Linked DNA regions of Homo sapiens: regions 1, 3 and 4 are each linked to region 2. The links come from fine-mapping of genetic effects on gene expression. A gene starts in region 2. Each other region holds a variant in brackets. All regions are shown on one strand. Distances are from middle to middle. Region 1 overlaps HIPK2 (homeodomain interacting protein kinase 2). Region 2 holds the start of HIPK2 (homeodomain interacting protein kinase 2). Region 3 overlaps HIPK2 (homeodomain interacting protein kinase 2). Region 4 has its middle 25 kb from the start of TBXAS1.

What was found.
Region 1: its variant is fine-mapped to the expression of HIPK2 in whole blood (TOPMed, PIP above 0.99).
Region 3: its variant is fine-mapped to the expression of HIPK2 in whole blood (TOPMed, PIP above 0.99).
Region 4: its variant is fine-mapped to the expression of HIPK2 in regulatory T cells (Schmiedel 2018, PIP 0.95).

The regions. Positions count from the first base shown.
Region 1 is chr7:139,737,058-139,744,977 of GRCh38, reverse strand. All of the region lies in intron 1 of HIPK2 (homeodomain interacting protein kinase 2), which reads left to right. Among named protein-coding and RNA genes, the nearest start is that of HIPK2, 37 kb to the left of the region's middle. The variant T/C (reference allele first, on the strand shown) is at 4,364.
Region 2 is chr7:139,775,772-139,783,595 of GRCh38, reverse strand. HIPK2 (homeodomain interacting protein kinase 2) reads left to right here and starts at 5,598. Exons shown (of 15, transcript NM_022740.5): 1 at 5,598-5,991. The coding sequence starts at 5,973. It also overlaps a transcript of TBXAS1 not described here. RefSeq lists silencers at 5,253-5,482, 5,913-6,002.
Region 3 is chr7:139,692,784-139,700,703 of GRCh38, reverse strand. The region is part of intron 2 of HIPK2 (homeodomain interacting protein kinase 2); the gene reads left to right. Among named protein-coding and RNA genes, the nearest start is that of HIPK2, 81 kb to the left of the region's middle. RefSeq lists an enhancer at 7,370-7,871. The variant C/G (reference allele first, on the strand shown) is at 3,962.
Region 4 is chr7:139,800,642-139,808,561 of GRCh38, reverse strand. It overlaps a transcript of TBXAS1 not described here. Among named protein-coding and RNA genes, the nearest start is that of TBXAS1, 25 kb to the left of the region's middle. RefSeq lists a silencer at 1-6 and an enhancer at 1,278-1,572. The variant C/T (reference allele first, on the strand shown) is at 3,087.

The DNA of each region.
Region 1 (7,920 bases), 39 kb after region 2:
TTATTCATCTGTGAAATGAAGGGATTTGGCGAGATGCCGCTTAACGTGACTTCCAGCACTAGCATTTTATGTAGGTCAGTGATCCTTTGTCCAGGGAGTGATCTTTTTTCCAGAGGAACCGTTCTGCAGTTGCTGGTTAGCTTATCATCTTGGCAGGGAGCAGCGTGGTGAAGCGAGCAGAACGTGGCCTCCGGAGTCAGCAAACCTAGTTAAAATCCACTTGCCGTAAGTCCGTCACGTGGCTTCGCAGCGGGCCTCTTGGCAATTAGCTGCTTTTCACCAGTCCTCAAGTTTCCTCATCTGTAAAATGGGATGATGATATGTATTTCAGGTCCGGTGGGTGAGAATATGTATCAGGCATCTACTTTTGTGACTATTTTTAAAATGGCTTTATTGAGATATAACTCACATACCGGAAAGTTCACTTTTTTGAAGTGTACAGCTCATCAGCTTTTAGCCTGTTCACTAAGTTGTACATCAGGCACCACTGTCCAATTCCAGAACATTCCATCATCCCAAAAGGAAATCCCATTCCTGTTAACTCACTCCCTATTCGCTTCTCCTTCTAGCCCCTGGCAACCACTAATCTATTTTCTGTCTCTATGGGTTTGCCTGTCCTGGACATTTCATTGAAATGGAATCAGACAATGTGTGATCTTTTGTGTCTGGCTTCTTTTGCTTAGCATGATGTTTTTGAGGTTCATCCATGTTGTAGCAGGTATCGGTTCTTCATTGCTTTGTATTGCCAAATAGTGTTTCACGGTAGGAATATACCACATTTTGCTTATCTGTTAATCACTTGATGGACATGCAGGTGGTTTCCACTTTTTGGCTGTTATGAATAATCCTCCTGTGAACATTAGTGGACATGGTTTTGTGTAGACATATGTTTTCAGTTTTCTTGGTATCCCATTGTGTTTTTGATTTGCATTTCCCTAATAATTAATAATGATCATCCTGTGCATATTGACCATTTGTATGTCTTCTCTGGCTAAATGTATATTCAGTTCTTCATTCATTTAAAAAATTAGGTTGTGTTTTTATTATTGAGTTGTAAGAGTTCTTTATATACTCTGGATGTTGTACCTGGCTTTTAAATAGGCATACAATCAATGTTAGTTCCTCATTCCAGGTCTCTCGCAGAACCCTGTAGTCTTTTAGGTGACCTCTGGAACTAACTGCCCAGACACTTAATCCTCAGCATCCTGAGTCTTAAACCATCCCCTTATGTCTTGTTCAGAGCTCTTCTTAGCACAAAGCCCTGAGCCATTTTGATCCTGGAGCCCCAGTCTGGAACTTGGAACAGCAGGGGGATAGGTGGGGTCTAGAGATGGGCTCTGGCTGAATCCACAGGGCAGTGGCTACTACCAAGTCTCATTTTTTTCTAGATGGAGGACTTAGGGGGTAACTGCACTGATTTTTGGCTGCATGGAGTCCTCTGTCCTGTGCTATGGACACCTGCATGTTGGGGCTGGGGCCCACAAAGAGATATGTCTAAGGACACTGGCTTCTTTCCACTGCCACTGCCAAGATGAGCAGCGGATTTTCCAAGAGTGATCTGGCAGTTGTAAGTTGTATATAAAAATGTCCCAAGGAAAATCATGTGTCTGTTTTAAAGAGAAGGGAGTTTTCTAGGAAACCTTTGACCTGGACATTCTTCTCTATTCTGAGAACTGTACCCTGTGCCCCCAAGATGTGATCTGTACTTTGTTGCCCCTCTGCTTTTGTGCCCATCATCTTCTTCCTCTATTTCTCCTCCCTGATGTGTGCAGCCCTCCCTTTCAGCCAGTAGGGAAAGGGAAACCTGCAGGGTCCGGCAGGGTCCCCTGTTCCTCCCCAACAAAGCCTCTTAGGTTTTCTTTGGCTGGGGTCTCTTCCTGCACACCTGGGGAAGAGGTGCCTGCAAAGCAGTGAAGGCCTTGGGAGTCCCACCTAGACTGTCCTCCAGAGAGCCATCTCCACTAGTTTGTGAAACTGCCATGCCACGTTTCTGTCCTAAAGACTTGGCCTTTCCTTAGACATGGATTTGATGGGTCCTGGACAGACGTTATTGATTGTTCCTCATAAGTCAGTCAAGACAGTTTATAGTCTCTGTTAATGCCCGGGAAATTTGTTTTGGAAGACAAAGCCAGCCCAATGGCATTTGGATGATGCTGACTTATTTTAAAGGGGAGAAGATACCCCTAGATGTGCAAGTCTTTTATAGGAACAGCTGTCTATGATGAGTCTTCATGCTCCTTTTGCTTCTCTGAACATTCTGGCATGCCCCTACCTAGCTGCTATTTTCTTGATTTCATAGAAAAGCACATTCTACCCTCAGAAAATCTGCTGTCCATTTGGAATGATAAGATAAATCAGAAAATTACCCATTGTTAGAGCTAAAAGATTCCTTGGGGATTATCCAATCCATTATTTTTCAATCTCCTATCCTGACAAAAAAGAGTAAGTGTTTTGTATGGAGAAAAAAAAAAGAAGTTTCCCTTTGGTAAATAAATTTGGGCTTCAGAGCATATTGTATATCCCTCTTGGAGATCCACGGTGTGCACTGCGATATTAAAGCCTCTGAGAAGTCCTGCAAAAAAGAAAACCGCTTTATTTGATTTAACCCAGCATTTCTTAAACTGTTTTGACCTCATTTTTTTCTTCTTTTTTCATAATAAATATTAGCACCTCACAGGACACTCAGCCCAGTTTGGTAAGCATGGCCTCCTTCATGGAAGAAGAAATCTGTGTTCAGAAATATTAAGTGACTTGCTCAAAATCAACACAAAGCCAGACTTGAAGCCAAATTTTCTAACTCCCACTCCATTGTTCTTTCTACAATTTATAACCATGTCGTGGCTGAGTAAGGGTTTATGACTTTTAAAGATGTTGTCATTTACATTCCTAATGGAAAATGTAAAGGCATTAGGGTCATACTGACATGTGTTTGAATTCAGGTCCTCTGATTTTACGAGCTCATGACCTTGGGGGAGCGAATCCTGCCAGTCTCTCTGGATCTCTTTCTTCTGTAAGGTGAGGATGATAATAATGACCTCCCAGGGTTGCCGTGAGGCTTAGATGAGAGAGTGTATGTAAAGATCAAGTTCACGTTCTTATCTTTGTTTTCTCTGACATTTTTCATCATACCAGGTTCTGTGCCACTTATCTATGATTTCAAAAGACGAACCATATTACAAACAACAAAACGTGAATGGTGGTGATCATACTGAGTATTTATTGAATAGTGACTGAGAAAATGAATGCACAGGAGACAGGAGGAGTTACCTGTGAAAATTCAGAGCTATACTGAACTGATCAACGTTCACGGAATTGGAGAAATAACAAAGGTGGGACAGGCTAGAGTGTGGAGATTAATGGGGGCTGAGGGAACAGGCTGTGCACTGGTAGGACATATTCAGGATCTCAAGCTACCTGCCTGCCACTTCTGCATCCCCACCGCGTCAAACTGTGGTTGAGCTTTCTTTATTAAATATGTAGCAGTTTGCTTTTGAAATACAATATCTTCAAAAACAAAAATAATGCCAGGCCTGCCAACAAAGTTTGTCCCGAGGGGGCAAAGGTGAAGGACAAGTGAAATGTTGCAAGAGGACAGGACGATACGAAGGATGGGGTCCAGAGTGAAAGAAGAGGCCTATGAGGCTCAGCACAGTGACTCTAAGATGAAACCGAGTGTCTCCCCAGGGCGCACACATGGATGAAAAGTGAAGGGAATGAAAGAGAGAGCCAGCCATTCCAGGACTTCTGCTCTTCTCTGCAGAAATCCTCCTTTCCTCACCAACTCTTCACCAACCCCCAAGCTTGCTTAACTAGCTTTGGAATTTGTACTTTGTATTTTTGAGATAGAGTCTCACCCAGGCTGGAGTGCAGTGGCGCGATCTCAGCTCACTGCAGCCTCTGCCTCCAGGGTTCAAGCAGTTCTCCTGCCTCAGCCTCCTGAGTAGCTGGGACGACAGGCACCTGCCACCATGTCCGGCTAATTTTCGTATTTTTAGTAGAGGTGGGGTTTCACCATGTTGGCCAGGCTGGTCTTGAACTCCTGACCTCAAGTGATCCGCCCATCTCAGCCTCTCAAAGTGCTGGGATTATAGGCATGAGCCACCGCGCCTGGCCGGAATTTGTACTTTTGCCTGGTAATTTAGTCCAGTGCCCAAACATGAAGTGTGAGTGTTTGTTTACTGCCAGCTTGGAGGGGACACATGCCTGATACTGACTCACCAGTTGCATTGGTGGTGGACTTGGCTCCTTCCCTGGGCTTCAGCCCATGTGTGCACCAGTCTGATCCCTTGCTCTGAAATATATTAGGACTAACAGGTGTGCAGGCCTCGAAGGACCCGTCTCTTTTGATATCTTCCTTGTCTAG[T/C]TGCTCTCTGATTTCTCATGGTCCTCACTCCCTCCGGGTCTTCTCCCTGCCAGTTTCTGAGCAGGCACTTTCCGGAGCACAGTGTGTGGATGACAGCAAATAAGTCCTCCGAGGCTTTGACCAGGAGCACAGACAGCTTTGCCCTGGTGAGGGACGGTAGAGAGAGCACCAGTTTGCGTCCTGCTGCAGCTGCACTTTGCACAGAGCGCCTCTTCATCTGGCAAGCAAGCATGCATTGTGCCAACCCTCGTCTGCCATGCCAGGTGCTGGCTCTTTCTCCGGGGCGATACCAGGCTAAGCATGCTGCTGGCACTGAGCGAGTCACAGCTTCTCTAATTTATTTACCTCAAATCAAACAAACCCTGACTCCTGCTTTGAATTTAGGCTGGTATTTTACCGAAGGACAGAAGGGCAGCATCTCTGCAGAAGGGCCTTCTGTGCGCTTTGCCTGGGACCTCTGGGGGACTTTGCATGACTCCTGGGGACTTCAGGAGGCCACTTTGGAAAACAAGTGTCAGGTCCTCAAAAGGTTAAACATAGAGTCGCCACCTGACCTGGCAGTTCCACTCCCAGGTATGTACCCGAGAGGAATAAAAACACGTGTCCACATGGTTGCATCGCAGCGAAAAGGAGAAGCAGCCCAAATGTCCATAAGCTGACAAGTGGATACACAAAGTGTGCAGTAATAGTCCACTGAATATTATTTGGCAATAAAAGGGAATGGAATGTTGATACATGCTACCACATGAGTAAACCTTGAAAATTTTATGTTAAGCAAAAGAAGCCAGATGGACATATACATATTGTGTGATACCATTTATATGAAATGTCTAGAACAGGCAAGTCCGCAGAGATAGAAAGTAGAGATTCATGGTTTCCAGGGGCTGTGGGAAGGGGGAATGGGGAGTGACTGCTAATGGGTATGGGGTTTCTGATAATCAGAGTGATGATAATATTTTGAAATTAGATAGCAGTGATGGTCACACAATTGTGTTCAAAACCACTGAACTATACCTTTTTTTTTTTTTTGGAGAGGGTCTCACTCTGTCACCCAGGCTGGAGTGCAGCAGTACAATCTTGGCTCACCGCAACCTCCGCCTCCAGGGTTCAAGCAATTCTCCTGCCTCAGCCTCCCGAGTAGCTGGGATTACAGGCATGTGCCACCACACCCTGCTATTTTTTGTATTTTTAGTAGAGATGAGGTTTTGTCATGTTGGCCAGGCTGGTCTTGAACTCCTGGCCTCATGTGATCTGCCCACCTCAGCCTCCCAAAATGCGGGATTACAGGCATGAGCCACTGCACCTGGCCTGAACTGTACATTTTTAAAATGTGAACTTTATGGTATGTGAGTTGTTATGTCCATAAAGCTGTTACTTTAAAAATTGCCCTGCTGGGGATGGTGGCATATACCTGTGGTCCCAGCAAATAGAGAGGCTAAGGCAAGGAGGATCATTTGATCCCAGGAGTTTGAGCCTGGACAACATAGTGAAACCCTGTTTCAAAAACAAAACTTGCCCGAAACTTACCTTTGTAGCCAAGTCCTTCATGGACAGGCTAGAGGTCAGATGGAAAGAAGTCAGAAAATTTATCTTGGGCGAGGGCATTTATTCTGCCACTGTGGGAGAAGCACTGTGCCATGGGTGTGGAGGAGCAGTGTTCAGAGAGGAGTGTCCTGTGGCCTCCACAATATTCATTCAAAATTTGCCAATGTCTTGGACATCCTGGGTTCCATTCCCTGCCCGGAAATGAGTTCCTCTTTTTGCCTGGTAGATTTCAGTGATTAATAAATAAATGTTCATCCTTATACATTTAAAAACATTTTATTTGGAAATAGTTTCCAAGTTACTAAAAAATTGCAAAAATAAAAATAGTACAAAGACTACCCCTATACCCAGATTCCCCTCCCCTATACCCCATATCCAGATTTTCCTGTTATCACTTCACCCCATTTGTTTTGTCATGCCCTTGAATGTGCTGTCTCTCACTGTTGCTCTTTTGGTTGTTGTGTGTGTGCCTGTGGTGTGTTTGTATATACAGACACACGAATGATCGTTATATGACTCGAGGGTAAGTTACAAATATCATGGTGCTTTATTCCGGCACCATCCAGAATGGTAGCTACTAGCCACAAGTAGCTATTTAAATTAAAACTAAACAAAACTTTACATTCAGTTCCTCAGTCACACCAGCCACATTTTCAAGGGCTGCATAGACACATGTGTGGCTGCATCAGACAATAGAGACTACAGAACCTCTTCAGCAGCACACAGAGCTCCTCTGGACAGCTCCGCGTTACCCCCGATGCTTCAGCGTGTGTTTCCCAAGAATAGGGCGCTCTCATACATGGTACAGAGATCAACTGAAGAGAATGTAACACTGATACAATATTTTTATCTGAGCCACTGTTTACATTCCAGTTTTGTCAGTTGACCCGGTGGAGTTCTCATTCCTTTTAGAATGGAGGTCTTGGGTCTTGTTTGTGAGCCCAGATCTGCTGGTCTGTACTCAGGGAACATGTATAAAACAGGACTGCTAAGTCTTGAATTGAGCCTGTGCCTTTCCTATGCCCTTTCTTTCCATAAACTCGAATCCTTTCTCTAACTCATGTGCAGATGGATCGGGTCTGGGCCCTGGAGCCCAGGTTGAATTTCCTTAGCTCAGAATTGTTTTAATGCTTTTGTCACTGGTTGAATAACTCAAGGTGCAGCTTCCTCCTGTGCTGACATTTGGTCTGTGAGCAGGTGTGGCTCTGCTCTTAAATCAGCAGAAAAGATTTCCTGTGAGTAAAAGGAAATTGGCCTTCCCAGCAACCGCACTGTTTTTCTTTTTTCTAATCACTTTCCCCAAATTTTAGCTTGCAACTAAGAAAAGGCTCATTTTGTTCTTTGTTTCTTATTTTATGGCTTAGTCGTGACCCTGTAGCTCTGAATCACTTCATGCGGCCCAGGACCAATGGGGCACTGGGGAGCTTCCGGCCCCAAACTCCTGGTGTAGCAGAGGCCGGATGTGCAGGGCCCTTGGCAGCTCATTTTCCTGCAGTCCAGGAGAAAGGTGGGCTTCTAGCGATTTTCAGCCATGGTTTGGGTGAAAAGCTGGGGTAATGAGCAAATTGCAGTGATTTTTATTCTTTCACTAACTGGTGTTAGAGCTTATCCTCCAGGGGATTTCTGGTGACTTAATGGGATTTCATGGCATGAGTAGGTATGGAAAACAGATTCCTGGGTCACTGACTTCACTTCCATAGACATTCCCCATCCCTTAATAATTCTTAGGATTTTGTGGGTGTAAAAGCTGGGAAACAAGAAATCAACGGGCTTATTATTCTTGTATCCTTTCCTATATTTCAAGTTGCCCCTTAGAATGTATCCTCATACGTCCTCCCACCTTTTTGTTTGGATTCAGCAAGTCTTAGAAGAGAAGAATCTTTAGCAAGGTAAGACCTCGGTAGGAATACTATATGAGCCATGTAGTTTGAGCCAGGATGGAAAAGGGAAATGAATTCATGCAGAGAGAGTGGAAATGGAGCTGATAGCTTCATTTTCTGCTTAACTAAAAC
Region 2 (7,824 bases):
CCATTTCTACCTAGTCTGTCCAAGTTCAGCCTGGACTGCAGGTCAGGAAAACCAAGCTATTACCTACCTCCCATAATCACAGAAATTTCTCTGCAGGGTTGGGTTGCTTCTCTGAACTGCTTCTCATGTGCAAATCCATCCTAATCTGCCATTCCCGCAACCTCCAACAAAATCGCCCTACCTTCTGTGCATCTACATTACAGCTTCTTTTCATTCATAGGCTGATTGCATTTTTTTTTTTTTTGCCATATTTCCTTTCTGCTCAATGCTCTTATGGCATCGCTTTGCTTTTCCTGCACCCCTGTTCAGGTGTCTGATCATTTTTCTTCTAGGAGCAAAAGCAGAAAAATGAATGATGTTTCCCTATTCCCCTGATTTTGCCAGTGTAATTTCTCCAAGACTGCCATTTCCACAATCAGATTCCCTTCACCCTGCCAAGCCTCGCTCTCCCCTTTGCCCTTAAAGCCACAGCTCTATTGTTCCTCATTTGAATGAAATGTCTACTCTTTTAAATTCTCTGTGAGTGTAATGTCTTGTTACTGAAGCTTTCAGTTAAAGAGTTTTGTTATTAAATACTACTCTGTTACAAACTGTATCATTGAAACCGATCAAAGGTTTAAAGCAGAAAGACAAGGTAATTTCTTAAGAATAATCCAAACAAAAATAGGTCTCTATTATGACTTGTTAAGAAACAGAATTAAAATAAAGGGAGAGGAAGAAGAAATAAAGAATGTGTGGAAAAGATAGAAAGATACAGAGAAAAAGAAAATTAGACACACAGTCAGAAAGAGAGGAAAATAGAGATACAGCAAGAGACCAAAAGAGAGGTGTGATATCAAAAGACAGAACTTGAGATAGTGACCTACCTCCCTCAGGCACATCCTCCAGAGATAAACCACAGGCACAGGCTCACACATGGAAAATAAAGAGCTGTCAGGAAAATAAGAGCAACACACACCAAGTGAGAATAAGATACAAGCCACACAGACATCATGCTAAGAATACCCTGAGAGTAAGAGAGACATACACACCTAAATGCATACACCAAAAAGAGGGTTATCTCTATCCTGTGGCCTTGAAGATATTGTGATGTTGTGCAGTTTCACAACTATAGGCATACATGAAAAAAAAAAGACCCTTTGTTCCATGTCCTGTAAGCAAAATGAACTTGAAATGAGGTCAAAGCTCCCCCATGTTCACTCTACCAACTCCTGAGAAAGATATGACTTGCACCATTTTGTAGAAAGGCAAATTAAGGAGAGGTAACTGGTATAAATGGTTACTAAATCCTTTCCAGTTTTCTTGCCTTTATTATTGTTCTTCAATGCACCCTGAAGTTAAATGGTATTTTGGCAACCTAGAGTTCCATGTACTGTTAAAAAAAAAAAAAAGTGATTTTTTTAAATGATTGATTAAACTCCTTAGAACACTGACTGCTAATGTGCTTATTAAATAAATAAAATACAATGCACACTATCTCTAGCCAAATGGGACAGCTCCCAGACCCCTCTCATTGTCTCAGGCCCATGACTGGTAAGGCCCTCTCTGCTTGGAGCAATCTCTGGTGCTCTTTTCTGGTACCTCCTTAGCCCTCCCCATCCTTCTACTATCTCCACCCATAAAACAGGACACATATTCAGGTAGAATTTAAGAAACCTGTATTTCCCTCCAAACTAGTTTCACCAAAGTCACTAATGCAACTCTTGTTGCTAAATCCAATTGATGCCTTTCTGCCTTTTTTTTTTTTTTTTTTTTTTTGAGATGGAATTTAGCTCTTGTTGCCTAGGCTAGAGTGCAATGGCACTAGAACTCGGCTCACTGCAACCTCTGCCTCCTGGGTTCAAGCGATTATCCTATCTCAGCCTCCCAAGTAGCTGGGATTACAGGTGCCCACCGCCACGTCTGGCTAATTTTTTTTGTGTTTTTAGTAGAGATGGAGTTTCATCATGTTGGCCAGGCTGGTCTCAAACTCTTGACCTCAGGTGATCTGCCTGCCTCAGCCTCCCAAAGTGCTGGGATTACAGGCGTGAGCCACAGCACCCAGCTGCTTTTCTGCTTTCATCTGACGTGGGCCTCTCAATAGCATGCAGCACTGTTGACCTTGCTGGGATGTTGAGGAATCCCCCGTCCTGGCTGTCCTCCAACTTCTCTGCCCTCTTGTCCATGGGGAGCTCTTTTTCCTCTTCCCATGTCTCAAATACTGGTACTCCCCAGGTTCTGTCACAGATCCTCTCTCCTCCCAGCTCCCATGCTCTCCTTCAGTGACATTTCACTGTTAGGTTTATACCTTGCTGCCACTTGACTGCAGTCACCGGAAGGAAAGGAGACAATTAGTATACTCAGTCTGCCAATTCATGAAGGAAAATCTAAGCTCATTTCAAGAATATTTTTCCGTTATATCATACGAACTTCGCTAGCTCAATTGAATGCATGTTTTGCATCTCATGGATACAGCTTCAGTCATGGTGGTCTGAAGAGAAGGTGGACCTCTGTCTGTATGGCTCCATCTTGTTCCCCTTCCATGGGACTCTATTTCCTTGCCCAAGATTGTTCCCTTCTTATGGGGAGGAGACTACCTGTAAAATGTTTTCGGTTGACACAAGTGATATTCATTTTAAGACTGCCTAGAATCACTCACTGCTAGACAGCAGCTGGGATGGACTTAGAGGCAGTTACTGAACACTGGTCAGTGCTGAATTCAGGGGCAGTCCTATAAAGCAGGGCCTTGCTCCAAGACGCTGCCAATCCAGTTATGAACACAGGGTACCTACACAGAAGACAAGAGTCAGCCATCTAGGGTGCGGGTATGCTGTGGACAACAGAGTGTGAGCAACAGGCAGGAAATGTTCTGTGAGCCTAAGGAAAGATGAGACAAAAGTCAGTGGGGCTGGTCAGAGGGAGGAGTTAGAATAATAATAACTTTTATTGAACCCCTACTATGTGTCTGCCCTCTATATAAAACTCTCTCTCTAATCTAACCCAGCCTCAGAGGCTGTGATGAGGACTATATGAAATGCCTTTTATCGAGTTTGTAGTGTTGTGCTGGACACAAGGGAGCATGCAACAAATTGCAGCTATCATCCATTCAACAAATATGTGTGCAGTACTCACCATGCGTTAGGCAATGCAGTTATTGGACATACAATCCAAAACAAGAAAAACATGGTTTCTGTCCTTACTGAGCTTACAGTCTAGAGACACCTTGTCCAAAATGGTAGCCACTAACCACCCATGGTTATTAAAATTAAAAATTCAGTTCCTCAGTCATACTAGCCACATTTCATGTGCTCCACAGACATAAGTAGCTACACTGCCATTATGGCAGCAAGTTCTAATGGCCAGCACTAGAAAGGGGCAGAGAGACATGCATGTAGGGTATGTATTAACAGGGAGTTACATACCTGTGTGGTGAAGGCTATGATAGAGATTTACAGATGCAAAAGGAGAACATTACTATTGTTCTCCTTCTCATAATCAAAATACAGACACTGAGGCTCAGAGAGGTTAAGCATTTTGACCAAGATCACATAGTTAAGTGGAAGAGCTAGGATTTGAACCTAGGTCTGACTTACTCCCACGCTATCTCGGGCTGTTTTGTGGAGGAGGTGAGCCAGGCACAGGTAGAATCTGCTTAAAGAGAGAAGATGGAGAAGGTACCCCTCTGGGAAAGTGGGTGGGAAAGTGACCGCTTGGGCAAAGGCACAGTGACAGAGATGGGTGAAGCTGGCACTGGGCTACAAGTAAACCAGTTTGGCTAGAGAAGCAGTGACTTGCTGAACTCATGTCCTTAGAAAGCTAAGTCAGGACTCGCCTGCCTTGATGAAAAGCCAAGGCACTCAGCCCCACCTGCAGAGGTTGAGTCCTTAGAGGATGTTAGCCAGGAGCGTGGCATGGCCAGAACCACGTATTATGAAGATGGCAATATTTAGGATGACCTGGGCCAAGACTAAAGTTAAAGATTGCAGGGAGGATAGAAGGGAAGGAGATAAATGACCGGTGTGGAGCAAAAAACACTAGAGTGGGAGCCACGAGACCTATTCCTAAGCTTCAATACTGTGTGACATTGGGCAACAGATTTTACTTCTCTGGACTCCATTTCTTCAACTCTAAAAGGGCAGGGCTGGCCCAGATGACCTCTGAGGTCCTTTTAGCAACAGTAGTCTAGGATTCTGCAAACGTGAATGGCATTAGGTTAAGAGAAGGGATAGGAAGTGTAGCATTGATTATGGGGGCAAGGAAGACCGCAGAGTACAAGATCACACAGAGGAAGGTGTCGTGATGTACCACTAAAAAAGTGTGAAAGAGCTTGCCTTTTTTGGGAAGGACTGAAGGATGGGAACGGAGGATGGAGACCGGAAAGGATAAGAAGTAGTGAGAAAATCACGAGGTTGTTTTTAAGAAAGTTATACAGTGTTAGAGATCATTATTTTACACAGATAGCTTTTCAACTTTTTTAAACCCACGATTCACAGACGGAAATAAAATTGACATCATGGTCCAGTACACTTGTCCAGTACCTATAATCGAAACAAAAGGTTTATGAAACAATAGTTGCCCTTACTAAGGGCAATGGACTCTAATATTTTCTATTGGATTCCATTTCGTTCTTTTTGAAAGCTGGTTGCCTTCCGCTGCATTTATTTTATGATCTATTACTGTGTCACGACCCACAGTTTTAAAAACAGTGCCTAAGAGGAGACTCAACAAGTCTTCCTAAGTTGGAGGGGATGGCAGGGCATCCTATCCAAGCATCCGGGAGGCAGCTGGAGAAGCAAACCTGGAGAGGCTCCCGGCTGGGGAGAGTCTGGAGAGTGTTTAGCGGAAGCCCTGATAGGAGAGAGCGCTGAGAAAAGCGAGGACCCAGAGAGTTGTGAGCTCCCATTCAAGTGATGGAGTGGCGGCCCTCGGGACAGTGTAGACGCGAGGAGGAGAAGATCAGGGTGGCGTGGAAGCCAGACTCCGGCAGGAACCCAGCGACCACCCCGGGGGCTGCATTTCCGCGGCGTGCACGGCAGGGCTTCGGTGCCTCTGACCTCGTGTGGCTTTCCGAAGCTCCTCCACTCACCCGCCCTCCTCCGGAGCACGGCGCGCGCCCACTCCTTCATTCATTCATTCCACTCCTACCTCCGCGAGCGCCAACCGGCTGTGAGATGGGCGAGCCACTTTGCCAGCGTGGGGCTCTCTTTCGGGTCGGTTCCCTCCCCGCCAGCACACGCGCGAACCCTCGCACCTGGGCACACACGCGCGCGCGTGCACACACACACACAAAGTTCTGGGGGCCCCTCTGCAGACCGGCTCGGCTGCGCTGGGCTCGGAGCCGTGCGCCCGCCGGGTCCAGGCCGGCCCTCTCACCCACTACCCGGGGCCCGCCCTGCGCCCAGTCCCCCCGCGCTGCGCGGCAGCCCCTCCCAGCGCGGTCCCCTCGGGCCGCCGGCGCGGCTCTGCCCTTCGGTTCGGCCTTCCCCGCCTCGCATCCGTGCCATCGGCGCTCGATTGCGCGCGGACTCCCTGTGGCTCTCCCGGCCCCGCGCCCCGCCCCCGCCCCCGCCCGCCGCCCCCCTCCGCCAGCAACTTTTGCGGAGCCCCCGCGCCCAGCCATGCTGAGCTGAGCCCCGCCGGCCCTGGCCGCGCGCTGCCCCCGGCTCCCGCCCCTCCGCGGATCCGCTCGGGGGCCGCGGCCGCTCGGCGCCTCGGCCTCGGCCGCTCCGCCCGCCCGGCCGCCCCGAGCCCCGAGCCCCGAGCCCCCCGCGCCGGGCCCGGGCGGCAGCGGCGGCGGCGGCGGCGGCGGCGCGCCCGGCCCCCTCCCCCGGCGCCGGCCACGGGAGGCGGTGATGCGGGCGCGGGCGGCCTCGGCTGCGCCGAGAGCGGAGACACAGGCTCAAGATGGCAGATTCCGACTGAGGCTGGGGGGGCCGAGCTCGCGCGCCGCTTTCCCGTCCCCGTTGCCATGAACCGCGGACACCCCGGCCCCGATGGCCCCCGTGTACGAAGGTAAGGGGCGCCCGGCCCCGCCGACCCCGCGCCCGCCGCCCTCCGCGGCCCCCGCAGCTTTGTTCTGCCCGCGGCCCCGCGCCCGCAGCCCCCGGCGCCTGCCCCAGCCCCCACCCGGGGCCCGAGGGGGCCGCGACCCCCTCCCTCGCCCGGAAGATGACCGGGACCCGGCGCCGGCAGGGTCTTGCTTCCAGGGCGGGGAGAGGGGCCGGGGGCGCAGGAGGGGAGGGGGCGTGTGCGAGGGTGGGCGGCTGCCCGGGGAGGGCAGGGACGCCGGGGAAGGCGGACCGGTGACTGTGCTTTTTATTTATTTGCGATAAATGAAGGTGATGCGGCTTAGCTTCCACCGCCCCCCCACATTACCTTTCGGAGCACCTCCTTTCCACTTCGCTCTCCGCCCCGCGCCCCTTCCCATTTCTTTCCGCGCCCACCCCACGCTCCTTTATTCTCCGCGAGCCTCCGATTTTGGGGGGGCTGTGGAATCGGAATGCACGGGGCTAGGTGGGGAGAGAGGAGAGAGATGAAAAGTCCATGTCAGAGCCAGGCAGAACAATGAAATAGGCGAAAATCTCCCCTCATTAGCGTGTGGAAGGGGACGTGGACTTTGGGTTTTCCAGCCGGGGGAGCGGCGGAGACGTTTTTCTGGCTCGGTCTGGGTCGATCTGTGTTGTGCACCTTCACCTGGCATCGGGGTATTTTTCCCCATTTGACTGCCTTTAGCAAGAAAGAAAAGAACGCAAGGCAGAAAAGCAGTAGGTCTGCCTCGCACACTGTCTTTCGTTTCTCTTCAGTCCGTTCTGTCAGCTTCCAGCCAGAAAGCAACCCAGAATCAACTAAGTTTTTACACTTCGATGTGTTTTTGTGTGCTTGTAGTAGGAGAAATTTTAAACCCAAGTGTGTCTGATTTTTCAGTCGTTTCATCGTGTAAATGTTTGTCTCATGAAATCATTGAAATCGCAGCCTTCACATACTTTTAGCGTGGGTCCCCCGGCTTTCTTTCGGTTTTGTTCAGATATTCTGTGGATGAAATCGCAAATGAGAGGGGACAGGGTTTGTGTGGCACAGAGGAGGGCACGAGGGGGGAATGTAATCCTCCTGTAAATCCGGAGAACAGTTGTGGCCAGTGAGACAGGGAAGGCATTAATAGTTTTATCTCTGTTATAAGAGGCTGATTAAAAAAAAAAAAACTTAAAAGAAAATCTGTTATTAGTTTCAGGGCTCCAAATGAATTAGGTTTCTGGCCGGAATAAAGTTACCAGTCAGGCCCTGGATAACGAGGCTGTAAATAACCTATAGACTGTAAATATTTTTTTTTCAGACTCTCTTAGAAACAAAGGGGCTGTTTAGAAGGCAACAGAGAGATGTTATTCCAGGGGCTTTCCTCTTTGATTCTGAAGAACACAAGGTCCATTTAACCATTCGACAAAACAAAACGAAATTTCTGATCACTCCACCACGCAGAATAGAACATGCCGGTGGACATGTGAACATGCGGGAGAACCCATGTCGGGCGTTCATTGTTCATCTGCGTCTACAGGAGGGGGCTACAGTCAATGCTCCCACTGTCTAGAGTGTTAAAATGAAACAATTTTCTCTTTATTAAGTACCTCCTTGAGACTCCCTCTGCTGGACACTCCCGGTGAGTTGAGAGAAGGAACTTGGCATTGAATTCAGAACTATAGTAAACGGCTGGTTTCCCTGTTACTAGGGACCGGGTATGTGAGTTGGGGTGTATTTTGTCAACTTTGTGGAAAGCCATCTTGGGAACTGCACTGTTCTCCTCCTGCTCCTTTCATTTTAAATCCATATGGAAGGTAGGCCATGCCCCCGAGG
Region 3 (7,920 bases), 83 kb after region 2:
TCCCACATGGACCAAGAGGGGAATTCTGCTGAGAAAGCCTCACGAGAGAAATGAACTGAGGAGAGGAAATATCATTTATAGATTGACCAGAGTGGGAGGGTTAACTGTAAACGTGCAGATTTCAGAAAATACAGCGTGGATGTACACAAAGGAAATACCCATTTAAGAAGTTGGGTGCATGGCTCTCTATTTGAACTAAACATAAGAGTTTGTATTGAAGCAGGTCGTTGCTGATGATGGTGACTCACGTTTTCTGAGTATTTGCAGGAAAGGGCTTTTTGTGACCGTCATCATAGCTCTGAGGTAGCTCTTGCAGCCTTATTGTCCCCATCACGTAGGGCACTGTGTGGTCAGTGCGTGGCCTCAGGTCACCCACATGTTGGTGACCACTACAACGGTACAGCCTCTGTGTCCCACTCTGTCCAGATGATTCCTTGCAGAAAGCAGGCGTGTTGAGGGTCCCCAGGCTGTGGTGTGCACAGCAGGAAACCCCCAGCTCCTCTAGAAAGGCCTGGCCTCAGGCACCCTTGAAAACACGTCTGATTTCAGCAGTCTCACGTCAGCCCTCCCCTCCCCCCACCTCGCACAGGCAAGTGTCCTGCCCTCTAGAGAGCGCCACTGAGGATTTGTTTTCCTGTCCCATTGGGAACCTCATGCTTGGTTAGCACAGACGTCGTATATCTGCATCACTGCTCCATTCTGTCCGAGGCAATGATGATGCTGACACCACTGCACAGAGCAGCACTGCCCCTGCTCCAGAATTAATGATTCAGTGCCCCAGACAAAGGTGGCATAGTGTGCAGCCACAGGAAGCATGCATGTTTTCCAGGGTGTGCCTCCCGGGAGGGCACATCTGTGCATTCACTCCGCACACCCCTGGCGTGCGCAGATTGTGACCCAGTGCTGTGAGGGATTCAGACCTGGGGCAGCCTGGAATTGACCCTGAGAATGTCAATGGGAGGGATGCAGGTGACAGCCATGCCAGCTGGACAGCAGTCATCTCCTAAGATCACCAAAGGTGAAGGGTGAGGGGTTCTGCCATGGGAAAGGCCACCTTGTGCCTGGTGCAGAGGGACCTATGCCAGCTCCACCCTCCCCAGCTGCAGGCCCAGCCTTGCCTCCTGATAGCAGGGTGTACCTGAGGGGCTTACACTCTCCTGCTCCTTAGTGAGACTTCTCCTGGACAAAACGTAACTTCTTGCTGGGTTGGAGGCTGTGGATGGCAGGTACATGTGGCCTAAGCATGGTCCTCTTCCCCAGGTGATAAAGAGGAGGCGGGGAGGGAGCCTATACATATTCACATTATCCTCCTTTCCATCTAGCAAGCGAGACTCACCACACTTAAATACTTTCCATTTCGCCTGCACAGCGTGAGGATTGCTGAGTTTGTTTTGCCATAGAAATTGAATGTTTCTAATGAAACATGACAACATCGCCTTTCCTAGCAAGTAGGAAGGGAGATCTTTTTCAGGAGATGTACTCCCTGCGGCCCTGGGGAAATGAGATACTGCCCCAGGCTGGTGGGAGAGATGGCGGGTGCCACTCTCCAGTATCTCTGTCTCACGGTTCTTGCTGCCCAAGCTACTGTGCGTCGGCAGCCGGCTGGGCCGCCCTCAGTCAAGCAGGTTGTTCGGATCGTGGCAGCTGTGGTGCTGTGTGCTCTGCGTGGGTCGTCGTTTTTATTATTTATTATACCCGTCCTTCAAGGTCCTACTCAGGTTTCATTTCTCTATTCATCTTTCTTTGGGCACTCTGCTCTTCTCTGCTGTAACTTCTTGCTGCATGTAAAATCTGTGGTATAATATATGCCTCCTTGCATTTGATGGAACTTTTGAGGTTTGGAACTTTTGTTCTATAGCTGTGTCCTGGGTGTTAGTCCTGGTCAAGGAGCTAGACTGGAACCTTTCTGGGTGTCTGTGCTGGTGATTAACATATTCCCTGTACTTGATGGTGGCGGGGTGGGTGGTAAGGATTAGAGATTTCACAGGGCCTGTTGAAGGAAAGCTGTTATATAAATCGCCCAATCCTTTCATGAGCTACAAAGGTCAGTGTTAATGAAAATCATTTCAGGATTTTTGTTTCATAAATTATGTTTAAAATAACTTTTTCAGGAACGCTCTTACATCGCTGGTACGAATGTAAAATGGCACAGCCACTGTAGAAAACAGTTTGGCAGTTCGTCAAAAACGTAAGCATAGAATTGCCATATGATTGCTGCAATTCCATTCCTAGGTATACACCCAAAAGAAGTGCAAACAAGGACTCGAACAAATACTTGTACATGCATGTTCATAGCAACACTGTTTACAACAGCCAAATGGTGGAAGCAGCCCAAATGTCCATCAGTGGATGAACGTATATGCAAATGGTGGTATAGACATACAATGGAATATTATTTCGCCACGAAAAGGAAAAATGTACTGATAAATGCTACAACATGAACATACACCCAAAACATCATGCTAAGTGAAAGAAGGCATACACGTATCGTATGATACTCTTTATATGAAATACCCAGCATAGAAAAATCCATTAAGATGGCTAGGTGCAGTAGCTCATGCCTGTAACTCCAGCGCTTTGGGAGGCCAAGATGGACAGATCACTTGAGGCCAGGAGTTCAAGACCAGCCTGGCCAACATAACGAAACCTTGTCTCTACTTAAAAATACAAAAAACTAGCCAGGCGTGGTGGCGTGCACCTGTAATCCTCAGGAGGCTGAGGCATGAGAATCACTTGAGCCTAGGAGGCGGAGGCTGCAGTGAGCCAAGATCGTGCCAATGCACTCCAGTCTGGGCGACAGAGCGAGACTCCGTCTCAAAAAAAAAAAAAAAAAAAAAAAATTCCATTAAGACAGAATGCATATTGGTGGCTGGGAGGAGGGGATAATAGGATAAATTCTTAATAGATAAGGGATTTTACTTCCAAATGATGAAAATATTTTGGAACTAGATAGACGTGATGGTTTGTACAACGTTATGAGTGATGAATGTACTAAATGCCACTGAGTTGTTCACTTTAAAAAGACTAATTTTACGCATGTGATTCACCTCAATAAATTATTTTTTAAACAGAAAAGGGAAAAAAATTAATTTTCTGTTTAATTATTTTTTAAACAGAAAAAAAAAAACCTTTAGGCTAAGTAGGAATGGGATGAGATTTTTACCAGGAACTGAGATTCAGGCCCTTTTTGGTTTATTTGTACGTGGGACCTAGCATTGTTAGAGATGCCAGGTAGAATGAGAGTATCTTTGAGAGCTGTGTTTGTGTCGTCGCCATAGGAGCTGATTTTATAAATCCTGACAAAAGCAGATTTGCGAAGATGATTTATACTTTTCCGGCTGTAGGCTGAAACAGTAAGGTAAATATTTTGTTTTCTCCTTCACTCGGAGAGAAAAGGAGCAGCTTTACTGCAGCTCTCTCTGAGGCCCCTGGGCACCTGTGTGTAAGCAGAGCTCGGCGTTGCCCTGATGGAAGTGGTGGTGTTATCTGAAGAACAGGTGTAGTGTGCACAGCGAGGCAGGAGGTAAAGCCAGGCCAGCTGCCTCTGGGTGCTCTCTCTGTCTTACAAGAAGGACTGATCCCTGGCAGGGGGTCGGGGAGGAGGCGAAAGGGGGAGTATTTTGTCTATGATATTTCAATAATTCTAAAGTCTGTGGTATAGTTGGCTTTAGAGATGGTAAGCCTAAATAAAATTCCATTTCTGCAACTGACTACCCTCGTGTGTCCTTGGCAAGTTACTTAACTTTCTGCATCCCGGCTTCCTGACCCCTAAACTGGGGATCATAATGCTGTCTTATAGAAGTTTTAAGGATTAGATGAAATCCACACATGCAGTGCCTGGCCTGTGGGGATGCACAGAAACATTCATCTCTCTGAGGAAGCAATGCTCTGAAACGTGTCACCTCTGAGTGTTGACGCCAGGAAGATGTGAGTGTTCCTTTCAGCCTGTGTGACTCTTCCC[C/G]CTTTACTCTTTTCACCCCGCCCCCTTTACTTTTATGTCCATTTCTTTGTGCTGCCATTTAGAGGAAGTGAAAAGTATCTGGGTTTGGTTTTGTTTTATCATCAACTATCTTCCCTAATCAGAAAAGACTGCATTTTTCTTTTTCTACCTTTTTTTTTTTGAGGCAGGGTCTCATTCAGTCACCCTGGCTAAAGTATAGTGGTGCACTCGCAGCTCACTGCAACCTCAAACTCCTGACCTTAAGCCATCCCCCTCCCTCAGCCTCCCCAGTAGCTGGGGCTACAGGTGTGTGTCACTGTGCCTTTCTAGTTTTTAAAATTTTTTGTAGGGATTGGTGGCGGGGGGTCTCACTATGATGCCCAGACTTGTCTCAAACTCCTGGCCTCAAGTGATCCTCCTGTCTCCACCTCCCAAAGCGCTGGGATTATAGATGTGAGCCACCCTGCCCAGCCAAGACTGCTTTTTTTCTCTTCCCATTCCTGGTTTGCCACATGGATAATTATATTTCATTGTCACAGGCCTTTATATAAGAAAGAAATCTGCATCTTACCACTGTGTATTTACGTAGTTGCATCCCCCACCCTACTATCAACAAAATCACTGACCTTCAACAAACATCACGTTATCAATGGCTTTCTGGGTACATTCTCTTTGCCTTGGTTTCCTTCTGTTCATCTGCAGCACACTTTTTCTCCCTCTGGCCAGTTCTCCGAAGTCTTAAACATTGATTAGAATGTCTGTTCTTCCTCAAATCCTGATTTGTTAATACTTTTCTTCCCCCCTTAATTCAGGAAACATTTATTGGACACCTATTAGGAGCAAGACAGTGTGCTATGATGAATCAGAACTAGGCCCTTCCCCCAAGGAGAGTCCAGTGCAGAAAATTAGACAGAAATCACTCTGATCACAGTTAAGCTGTGGGACAGGATTTCACTGAACTGTGGTTTTGTAGCCATTTCATCCCTGAGTCATGCTTCTTCCATAGTTTTCGGTAATTTGTCCAAAACATCTTTGGCAGATTATATTTTGGAACTATTGTAAATCCTCCTTTCCTAAATTTTCATCTTGAGTGTGTGTTCTTTCTACTCTTGGAAGTTTATATGGGTTTTAATGAACTGTTTGTCCTGTAAACCATTCTGTAGAGCAGTTCTGATTTGTTCTGATTCTTTGCTTTCCCCTGGCCTCTTGAATAACTTTTTAATGTCCTCAAGCTTAAATATATCTACTTCTATTCTCAAGTACAGAGGTTTCCTTCCCATGTAGCATTGATGTCAGGCAATCAGGTTGGCGTTCTCAGCCCCATTTCCCATTTCATGGTGGCCCCAAGAGATGGAGTGGCGAGCCCCCAAGGCTGTCTAACTAGCGGGTGGTGAAAGGCAGCCCCGGGCCACACAGTAGTCGTGCAGTTCCGGTGAGGCCTAACCCTCCGTTCTGAGCCACCCACTGTGATGGTCACTTTGATGACGAGGACCACGGCTCCCTGGGAATCGGCCCGCAAGCAGCCTGCTCCTCTAATGATGGAACACTTATGGCTGCTGGCAGTGGGAGACAGTATGAATATTAATAAACTATATTTCACTTTTATTACTTTTTCATGGAGATGGTGTTTGTGAGTGAAGTCCGTGCACTGAGCTACAGACAGGCGTTTTGTTTTCTTGACAAAATGGCGAACCTCGCAGCCAGAGGCAAGAGCACGTTTAGGAGCAGCTAGCTAGGAAAAATGCCAGTAAACATTAGCAGGCCATATAATAGGGGGCGAGCCTGTGGATTTCTGTGTTTTAACAGTTTTCTGAGGCAGATAAATATCACAGGTTCAGCAGTTTTGCAGGATATTCCTTGTTTGACTGTTCCTTTTCTGTTGTAATGTCTGCATGCAACTGTTAGGCCATTGCCTTGCCCCATAAATGGTTGCCAGTCACCTGTCCTGGGGTTAACAGGCAGAGCCTTGTCCTCCTGCCCATTCACTCTGCACCTTCCAGCCCTCATCCTCCACCTTCTCTGTTCAACTGACATCTTTCCACTAAACCAAAGCAGACACTACCTCCCCCATTTATCATAGCTGAGTGCCCCATCTCTGTTTTTATGTGACCATGGACCATGCGCACAGGAATGATCAGGCCACCAGGGAATGGTGGGCTTGTCTCAATCAGTGAACCTTGGCAGGTGGCGAGAACGCTTTGAGACCCAGGCAGACCACAACAGACTCCCCACGTGGTTCCAGAGACCAGAGGTGGATCTGGGCTGGGGCAGGAATGACCCCTCAGCATGACAGTGCCCCGTGCCTTTGGTCCTGCCTTGGGAGGAGACACCTGTCGGAGCTCTGAGCCGTGTGTTGCTGGGATACGTCATGATCATCGATCTGAGGTATCTTTGTGTTGGTAATGGGTATCTATCACTGGGCTAGGTGACAGAACCTTGCTCTGTTGATACATATCTGGTGTCTTGTGGAGCGTGTAAGGACACACGTGTCTCTGGCAGAGTGGAGCATGGCAGACTGTGAGAGTTACAGGAGGATGGATTAAAGTTCATCCGTTTATTTCATGAGTCAGAAAGAGCAGATGAATTTTTGCTAATTCGAAGTGCATCTATTACAGCCAGGTCAAAAGAGAAATCTGAGAAACCTTCTGTACTGAGTAATGCAGACCCTTCAGACTTAACCTTTCTTGATGATTTATTGAATAGGAAAAAAAGTATATTTCTGCTTTTGCAGTTCCAAGTTTCTTCTCGGTTTAGAATCAGTCACTTCAAGGAAAGACTGCACTCTTTATGCATGTGGAAGTGGCTTGTTTTTAGAGTTGGATTATCACTCCTTTCATGTGTTCAGTTTGCAGCAAGCATTTATTGAGTGCCTGCTGCCTGCGGGATACTGCATTTTAGTATCTGATAAGTGCACATGTTTTTAGAAATGTTTACCTGAGTCACACATTATTGGAGAATAAAGATATCATGTGTGTATACATTTCCCAAGTGACTAAAACTTACCCATTTCAACACCATACTTAAAATGTTTTTTTTTTTTTTCTGGACAAAAATTTAACAGGAAGACATCATAGCATCCCATACCTTCTGATATAGAGTAGAGGACGAAGGGGAATGAATGGCACTGGCATTTTAATAAGCATCTGCTAAAGGCCAGAGGCCTACATTTAATCTTTGGGACAACTCCCCATTTAGTGGATGAGAAAATTGAGTCTGAGGAAACCAACTGCCAAGTGGCACAAGGCTAGAAGTAGTGCTGCTGGGATTTGAACCAGGTGTGTCTGACCCCCAGACACACGTTTCTTCTACCAAGTGCTGCTCTCTCTCCAACTGAACCCCTTCCTAATCCCTCAGGGTTATTATAAATGTGATGAAATGTGTTCAAACACAGACATGCACTTAGGTGCTCTACTTAGAGTTTAATTCTCTTTGCTCCAGTTAAAAGGCTCCTTGTATCTGTGTTCATTGAGTTAAAATTCTAACTCTAGCTGCCATTTATTAAGTGCCTGTTATATGCAAGGAATTTTACATGCATTTTCTCTGTTCTTCACAAGGCATTTTTTCCATTCTGTAGATGAGGAAACAAGCTCAAGGAGGTTAAGTAACTTGCCCCAAATCCTATAATCACTAAGTGATAGAGCCTTTGGAGTCTTTCTGCCTCCAAAAGCTTTGCATCTTCTCACAGTGGTTGGTCTCTGTTCCTCTTGGGGTTAGGAACTGTTGTCATTATGCCAGCCCCTTCCTGCAGTGGCTCTCTCCTGTTCTAATGTCGTGTTCCCATCTCTTCATGACAGCAGAATCAAGTCACCAAACCTGTTGGAGGTAATGGAAAAAATATTGGCATAGGAACCAAACGACCTGGCTTCTAGCCCCAAGCTGGGCATGTGGCCTTAAGCAAGCCCTTGGCTCCTGAAATTTAGAGCCGTACTTCTTCCCTGCCTAGGATGGGCATTTATCACGAATGTGTGAGAATCTGCATA
Region 4 (7,920 bases), 25 kb before region 2:
CGCTAAGTGTTCAGGAATTTTGCCAGCAAGCTGTTACATGTGGTCATTATTAATAATTAAATTATGTAAGTTTACAATTAAATAAATTATATTAAAAATAAAGGTTATAAATACTAAAATACAAAATACTAAAGATAATAAATGCTAAAAATATATCACTCCCTAATTATTTTACTACTATTTACTATTATCTATGCCCTTGAGGGTTTTGTTTTTGTTTTTTTGAGACAGGGTCTCACTCTGTCACCCAAGCTGGAGGGCAGTGGTGTGATCTCAGCTCACCACAATCTCTGCCTCCCAGGCTCAAGTGATTCTCCTACCTCAGCCTCCCAAGTATCTGGGACTACAGGCATGCACCACCACATCTGGCTAATTTTTGCATTTTTTTTTTTTGTAGAGATGGGATTTTGCCATGTTGCCTAGGCTGGTCTCAATCTCCTGGGCTCAAGCAATCCACCTGCCTCAGCCTCCCAAAATACTGGGATTACAGGTATAAGCTACCACACCTGGCTGAGGGTTTGTTTTAGGTCTATTGTATCTGTAAGGTGGAAATACTGTCTAATGGTGGCTATTGAACATCTCTACCCAACTCCACATTCAATGAAGTCATGTTAGTAGTTTGAGATTGGCGGTGATGGGAATATTTACACCACAGATGTCAGCAAATGCTAAAGAGCAGAGATTATTCCCCTCCCCAGAAGGCCATTTACCAGCAGACAGGGGCAAGGCCATGGAAAATAAACACAGGGAACTCCAAGCTGTGCAGAAAGCTGGGAAAATACATGGGAGGTTTAGGCACGAGGATCGCTTGAGGCCAAGAGTTTGAGACCAGCCTGGGCAACACAACAAGACCCTGTCTTTAAAAAAAAGAAAAAAATTGGCTGAGCGCGGTGGCTCACGCCTGTAATCCCAGCACTTTGGGAGGCTGAGGTGGGTGGATCACGAAGTCAAGAGATCGAGACCATCCTGGCCAACATGGTGAAACCCTGTCTCTACTAAAAATACAAAAAATTAGCAGGGCATGATGGTGGGCACCTGTAGTCCCAGCTACTTGGGAGGCTGAGGCAGGAGAATCACTTGAACCCGGGAGGCGGAGGTTGCAGTGAGCCGAGATTGCGCCACTACACTCCAGCCTGGTGACAGAGCGAGACTCCATCTAAAAAAAAAAAAAATTAACTAGGTGTGGTGGGACACCTCTGTAATCACAGCTGCTCAGGAGGCTGAGGCTGGAGGAGGCTGAGGCTGGAGGATCACTTGAGCCCAGGAATTCAAGGATACAGTGAGCTATGATCGTGCCACTGCACTCCAGCCTGGGTGGCAGAGCAGGAAACAGAATCCAGCAAAGAGCAAAGTTCAATGAGGTGAAAAGTGATCAAATCCCTGATGACCTCTGAGACCACATGGAAGAGCTGGCGCTGGAGGCTTTGGAGGACTCGAGGAAGGGAGAGATCATCTGCCCACAGCAGGGAGGGCAGTTGGACTGCAGAGTGGCCAGACCAGAGGCAGGAATCCAGGATGACTCCCCAGCAAGTGGAAGGCACATTCAATGAGAAAAGGTGACCAGTGCAGTGTTCCATATGGGAGTGTGTGCTGTCCAGTTTGTGAACCCCCTAGGTAGAAGCATTCGGCAGACAATCACTGTTCAAAGGAAGTTTGGGAGACATCTGGGCTGAGGCCAGGGACCACACACCAGTGTGGATGGCGGTGAAAGCTTTAGAGTGTGTGAGGTCACCAAGGAGGGCGGAGACAGAAAAGAACAACTGAGAATGGAGCCAAGGGGGAATCAAGGTGCAGACAGATGAGAGGGAGGATGGGGAGGGCACAGCCAGAGACCCTGGAGATAATGAAGCAGAATGGCAGGCAAGGCAGAAGAGTGTTTCAGGAAGCAGGAGACAGAGAGGGAGACAGGGCAGAGGGAGAGACCTGGAAAAAGGGGAACAGAGCATAGGTGTTCAATCCCCAGCTCCTAGAAACTCCTAAAAATACCAAAATAAAAACAGGCCAGGCACGGTGGCTCATGCCTGCAATCCCAGCACTTTGGGAGGCCAAGACGGCTGGGTCACTTGAGGTCAGGAGTTCAAGACCAGCCTGGGCAACATGGCAAAACCCTGTCTCTACTAAAAATACAAAAATTAGCTGGGTATGGTAGAGCGCGCCTGTAATCCCAGTTACTCGAGAGGCTGAGGCATGAGAATCACTTGAATCCAGGAAGTGGAGATTGCAGTGAGCCAAGATTGTGCCACTGCACTCCAGACTGAGTGACAGAGTGAGACCCTGTCTCTAAAATAAAATAAAATAAAATAAAATAAAATAAAATAACATAGGCCAGGCACAGTGGCTCATGCCTGTAATCCCAGCATTTTGGGAGGCTGAGGCAGGTGGATCACTTGAGGTCAGGAGTTCAAGACCAGTCTGGTCAACATGGTGAAACCCCGTCTCTACTAAAAATACAAAAAAAAATTAGCCAGGCGTGGTGGCGGGCGCCTGTAGTCCCAGCTACTTGGGAGGCTGAGGCAGGAGAATGGTGTGAACCCAGGAGGCGGAGCTTGCAGTGAGCCAAGAGAGCGCCACTGCAGTCTGGCCTGGGTGAAAGAGCGAGACTCCATCTCAAAAAAAAAAAAAAAAAAAGCAAAAATTTGCTAAGCATGGTGGTGCACACCTGTAGTCCCAGCTACTCGGGAGGCTGAAGCAGGAGAATTGCTTGAACCCAGAGGCAGAGGTTGCAGTGAGCTGAGATCGAGCCACTGCACTCCAGCCTGGGCAGCAGGCTGTTTCAAAAAAAAAAAAGAAGAAAGAAAGAAAGACAAGAAAGAAAGAAAGAAAGAAAGAAAGAGAGAGAGAGAGAGAGAAAGAAAGAAAGAAAGAAAGAAAGAAAGAAAGAAAGAAAGAAAGAAAGAAAGAGAAAAAGAAGGGAGGGAGGGAGGGAGGGAAGGAAAGAAGGAAGGAAAGAGAGAGAAAGAAAATCTAGGGATGTGTTCTAGACTTTCATTCTAGATATTAAGACAAGGAGGAACTAGAAGGAAGACTCACAATTCAACTCACTTCAAAGAGTTGTGTGTCATGGGATGAAAGTGGAAGGTCCATCC[C/T]ACTGAACCCTCAGGTTGAGCCCACTGAGGAACAGGAAGCACTCCTACCTTGGGGGCTGTGGCACTGGAGCCCCAGGCCCAGGAGCAAGTGAGGCAATATAACATAAAAGTTAAGACCATGAATTCTGGAGTCAGATAGTCTGGGTTTGAATGCTTATTCTGCTAATTATTAGCTTGGATAACTTTCTTAACTGAGCCCTCAGTTTCCTCATCTATGTAGTGGGAATGATGATAATATATATACCTCATAGAGTGATTGTGAGGATTAAACAAGGAAACACACATGCAATGTTCCAAATCAGGCCTGGCACCTGGCTAGCGCCACTGATGGCTGTGATCAGGATTGCTGTTAGGACACCCCCAGCACCACCAGGATCCCTGCTACACCCATCTGCCTGATGGATCACTGAACTTATCTCATTCCATCCTCCAATTCAAGATGGAAAAGGATTATTCTAATTGACTTCAGGTAAGCTGTGAAATCCATTCACATTACTTTTGGGGGAATGCATAGTCAAGAGAGATCTTTCCTCATTCCAAAATATATTAAGAGGGAAAAACAAACATGTTGTATTAGTCCATTTTCATACTGCTATGAAGAAATACCAAGACTGAGTAACTTATAAAGAAAAAGAGGTTTAATGGACTCACAGTTTCACATGGGTGGGAGGCCTCACAATTATGGTGGAAAGCAAAGGAGGAGCAAAGGCATGTCTTACATGGTGGCAGGCAAGTGAGTATATGTAGGGGAACTGCCGTTTATAGAACCATCATATCTCATGAGACTTACTATCATGAAAATAGCACAGGAAAAACCCACCCCCATGTTTCAATTACCTCCCACTGTGTCCCTCCCATGACACACAGGAGCTACAATTCAAGATGAGATTTGGGTGGGGACACAGCCAAACCATATAATTCTGCCCCTGGCCCCTCCCACATCTCATTTCCTCACATTTTAAAACACAATCATGCCTTCCCAACAGTCCCACAAAGTCTTAACTTATTCCAGCATTAACCCAAAAGTCCAAGTCCTAAGTTTCATCTGAGACAAGGCAAATCTCTTCTGCCTATGAGCCTGTAAAATCAAAGGCAAGTTAGTTATTTCCTAGATACAATGGGGATACAGGCATTGGGTAAATACATCCATTTCAAATGGGAGAAATTGGCCATAAAACAAAGGAGCTACAGGCCCCATCCAAGTCTGAAATCCAATAGGGCAATCATTAAACCTTAAAGTTACAAAATGATCTCCTTTTACTCCATGTCTCACATCCAGGGCATGCTGACACAAGCTTGGGCTCCCACAGCCCTGGGCAGCTCTGCCTCTGTGGCTTTGCTGGGTATAGCCCCCCTTCTGGCTGCTTTCCCAGTTGAGTGTCTGCAGCTTTTCCTGGTGTATGGTGCAGGCTGTCAGTGGATCTACCATTCTGGGGTCTGGAGGATGGTGGCCTTCTTCTCACAGCTCCACTAGGCAGTGCCCTAGAGGGGACTCCATGTGGGGGTTCCAAACCCACATTTCTTTTCTGCACTGCCCTAGCAGAGGTTCTCCATGAGAGCTCTGCTCCTGCAGCAAACTTCCACCTGGACATCCAGACATTTCCATTCATCCTCTGAAATCTAAGTGGAGGTTCCCCAACCTCAATTCTTGACTTTTTTGCACCTGCAGGCTCAAACCATGTAAAAGCTGCTAAGATTTGGGACTTGCACCCTCTGAAGCCACAAGTCCAAGTGGTACCTTGGCCCCTTTTAGCCACAGCTGGAGTGGCTGGGACTCACAGCACCAAGTTCCTAGGCTGCACACAGTGGGGGCCTGGGCCTGGCCCAGGAAACCATTTTTTCCCCCTAGACCTCTGGGCCTGTGAGGGGAGGGGCTGCTGCAAAGGTCTCTGACATACCCTGGAGACATTTTCCCCATTGTCTTGGTGACTAACATTGGGCTCCTTACTTATGCAAATTTCTGCAGCAGGCTTGAATTTCTCTCCAGAAAATGGGTTTTTCTTTTCTATTGCATCATCAGGCTGAAAATTTTCCAAACTTTCATGCTCTGCTTCCTCTTGAATACTTTTCTGCTTAGAAATTTCTTCCACCACATACCCTAAATCGTCTCTCTCAAGTTCAAAGTTCCACAGATCTCTAGGGCAGGGGCAAAATGCTGCCAGTCTATTTGCCAAAGCATAACAAGAGTCACCTTTGCTCCAGTTCCCAACAAGTTCCTCATCTCCGTCTGAGACCACCTCAGCCTGTACTTTATTGTCCATATCACTATCAGCATTTTAGTCAAAGCCATTCAACAAGTCTCTAGGAAGTTCCAAACTTTCTCATATTTTCCTGTCTTCGTCTGAGCCTTCCAAACTGTTCCAACCTCTGTCTGTTACCCAGTTCCAAAGTCACTTCCACATTTTCAGGTATATTTACAGCAGTACCCCACTTTACCAGTACCAATTTACTGTTTAGTTCATTTTCATACTGCTATGAAGAAATACCAGAGACTGGGTAATTTGTAAAGAAAAAGAGGTTTATTGGACTCACAGTTCCACATGGCTGGGGAGGCATCACAATCATGGCAGAGGGCAAAGGAGGAGCACATCTTACATGGCAGCAGGCAAGAGAGCATGTGCAGGGGAACTGCCACCACCTTCTTCTTTCTTCTTTCTTCTTCCTCTTCCTCTTCTTCTTCTTCTTTTCTTTTGAGACCAAGTCTCACTCTGTCACCCAGACTGGAGTGCAGTGGAGTGATCTCAGCTCACTGCAACTCCACCTCCTAGGTTCAAGTGATTCTCCTGCCTCAGCCTCTGGAGTAGCTGTGATTACAGGCACACGCCACCACACCCAGCTAATTTTTGTATTTTCAGCAGACATGGGGCTTCACCATGTTGGCCAGGTTGGTCTTGAACTCCTAACCTCAGGTAATCTACCCACTTCAGCCTCCCAAAGTGCTGGAATTACAGGCATGAGCCACTGCGAACAGCCGGGAACTGGCCTTTATAAAACCATCAGATCTCTAGAGACTTATTCACTATCACGAGAACAGAATGGAAAAAACACACCCCCATGATTCAATGACCTCCCACTGGGTCCCTCCAACAACATGTAGGGATTATGGGAGCTACAGTTCAAGATGAGATTTGGTTAGGGATGCAGCCAAACTATATCACGTGTAACCTATGCAACTATTCTGTAACGAGAAAATGGATACACGTAGCACTCAAGAAGTGTTAAAATTGAATATTTTAAAGAAAAAATGTTACTGTAGAAAATGGAAATACATTTGAACAACACTTAAAACAATATTTAAACTACATTTGATGGAGGGACAGATAAAAATCTCAGACTCCATGAAATAAAAGGTAAGAATGAGATAAGCCAACAAAGTGATATGAGAGAGTTGACACAGTTAAGAAAATAATGTGACTGGACGTGGTGGCTCACACCTGTAATCCCAGCACTTTGGGAGGCCAAGGTGGGTGGATCATCTGAGGTCAGGAGTTTGAGACCAACCTGGCCAATGTGGTAAAACCCCATCTCTACTAAAAATACAAAAATTAGCCAGACACAGTGGCGTGCATCTGTAGTCCCACCTACTTGGGAGGCTGAGGCAGAAGAATCGCTTGAACCTGGGAGGCAGAGGTTGCAGAGAGCAGATATCAGGCCACTGCACTCTAGCCTGGGTGACAAAAGGAGACTCTGTATCAAATAATAATAATAATGACATGGAAGAATTGTAAATAAACTTAGCAACCACAGTGGTTACAACTGGCAATGGAAGATAATTCAATCAGTGAAAAGAAAGCTAAGCATAGGACTGTATTCTGTAATGCAAAAGAAAAGGACAAAGATTAGCTGGGCATGGTAGCAAGTGCCTGTGGTCCCAGCTACTTGGGAGGCTGAGGTAGAAGGATTGTTTGAGCCTGGGAGGCAGAGGTTGCAGTGAGCTGAGTTGTGCCACTGCACACCAGCCTGGGTGACAGAGCAAGAACCTGCCTCACAAAAAAGAAAAAAAAAGGACAAAGAGATCAAAACTATCAGAAACAAGGTCTAGACATAGAAAGACAGGTGATAGAAATCTAGTTTTGAAGGAGAGAGAAAAAAAGAACAGAAGAGCTATTTAAAGATATTAGAAAAGAAAATATTTTTAAGTTGAAGCAAGACCTGCATTTGTAGATCAAAGCTCATCATATGTTAGCCCAAATTAATAAAAAACAGACCTAGATTTAGACATATTGTAGTGAAACAGTTAAATGTTGAAGGGGAATTTAACAATAATGTTAAAAAGCCAATACAAAGAAAACATTATTTTATTTAAAAACACATAAATGGAAAAATGTGGTCTGTCCTTGATTAGGAAGAGTTTTGATATTGCAAAGATACTGATTTCCCTCAAACTAACTGATAAGGTTAATGTCATCCCTAGTAAAATGCCAGCGGCATTATTTTTAAAACTGTCTCAAACTGTTTCTGAAATTATTCTGGAGTAATAAAAGATATTGATGGGGAGACACTGAATACAGGGAAGGAACAAATGAGAGTAAGGAAATATAGTTAGCTATAAACTATTTTGTAAGAAGAAGAAGAAAGTTTGGATGGAGTTGAATGAGTTTTTAAACATGAAAACAACAAGTAAGCAATTGATAACTGATAGGAAAAGACTAAAAATTTAGGTCAGGATTCCAGAGGACATGAGGAAATATGAGAAGGTCACAAACACTCTCAGATAGAAGGGAGAATATTCTATCCAAAGAGTCTGAAATCATCAAGAAACAGTAATATTAAAATAGTAATTATAATAGCTAACATATTGACCATTGCGTGGACAGCTGGAGAAACGATGGTT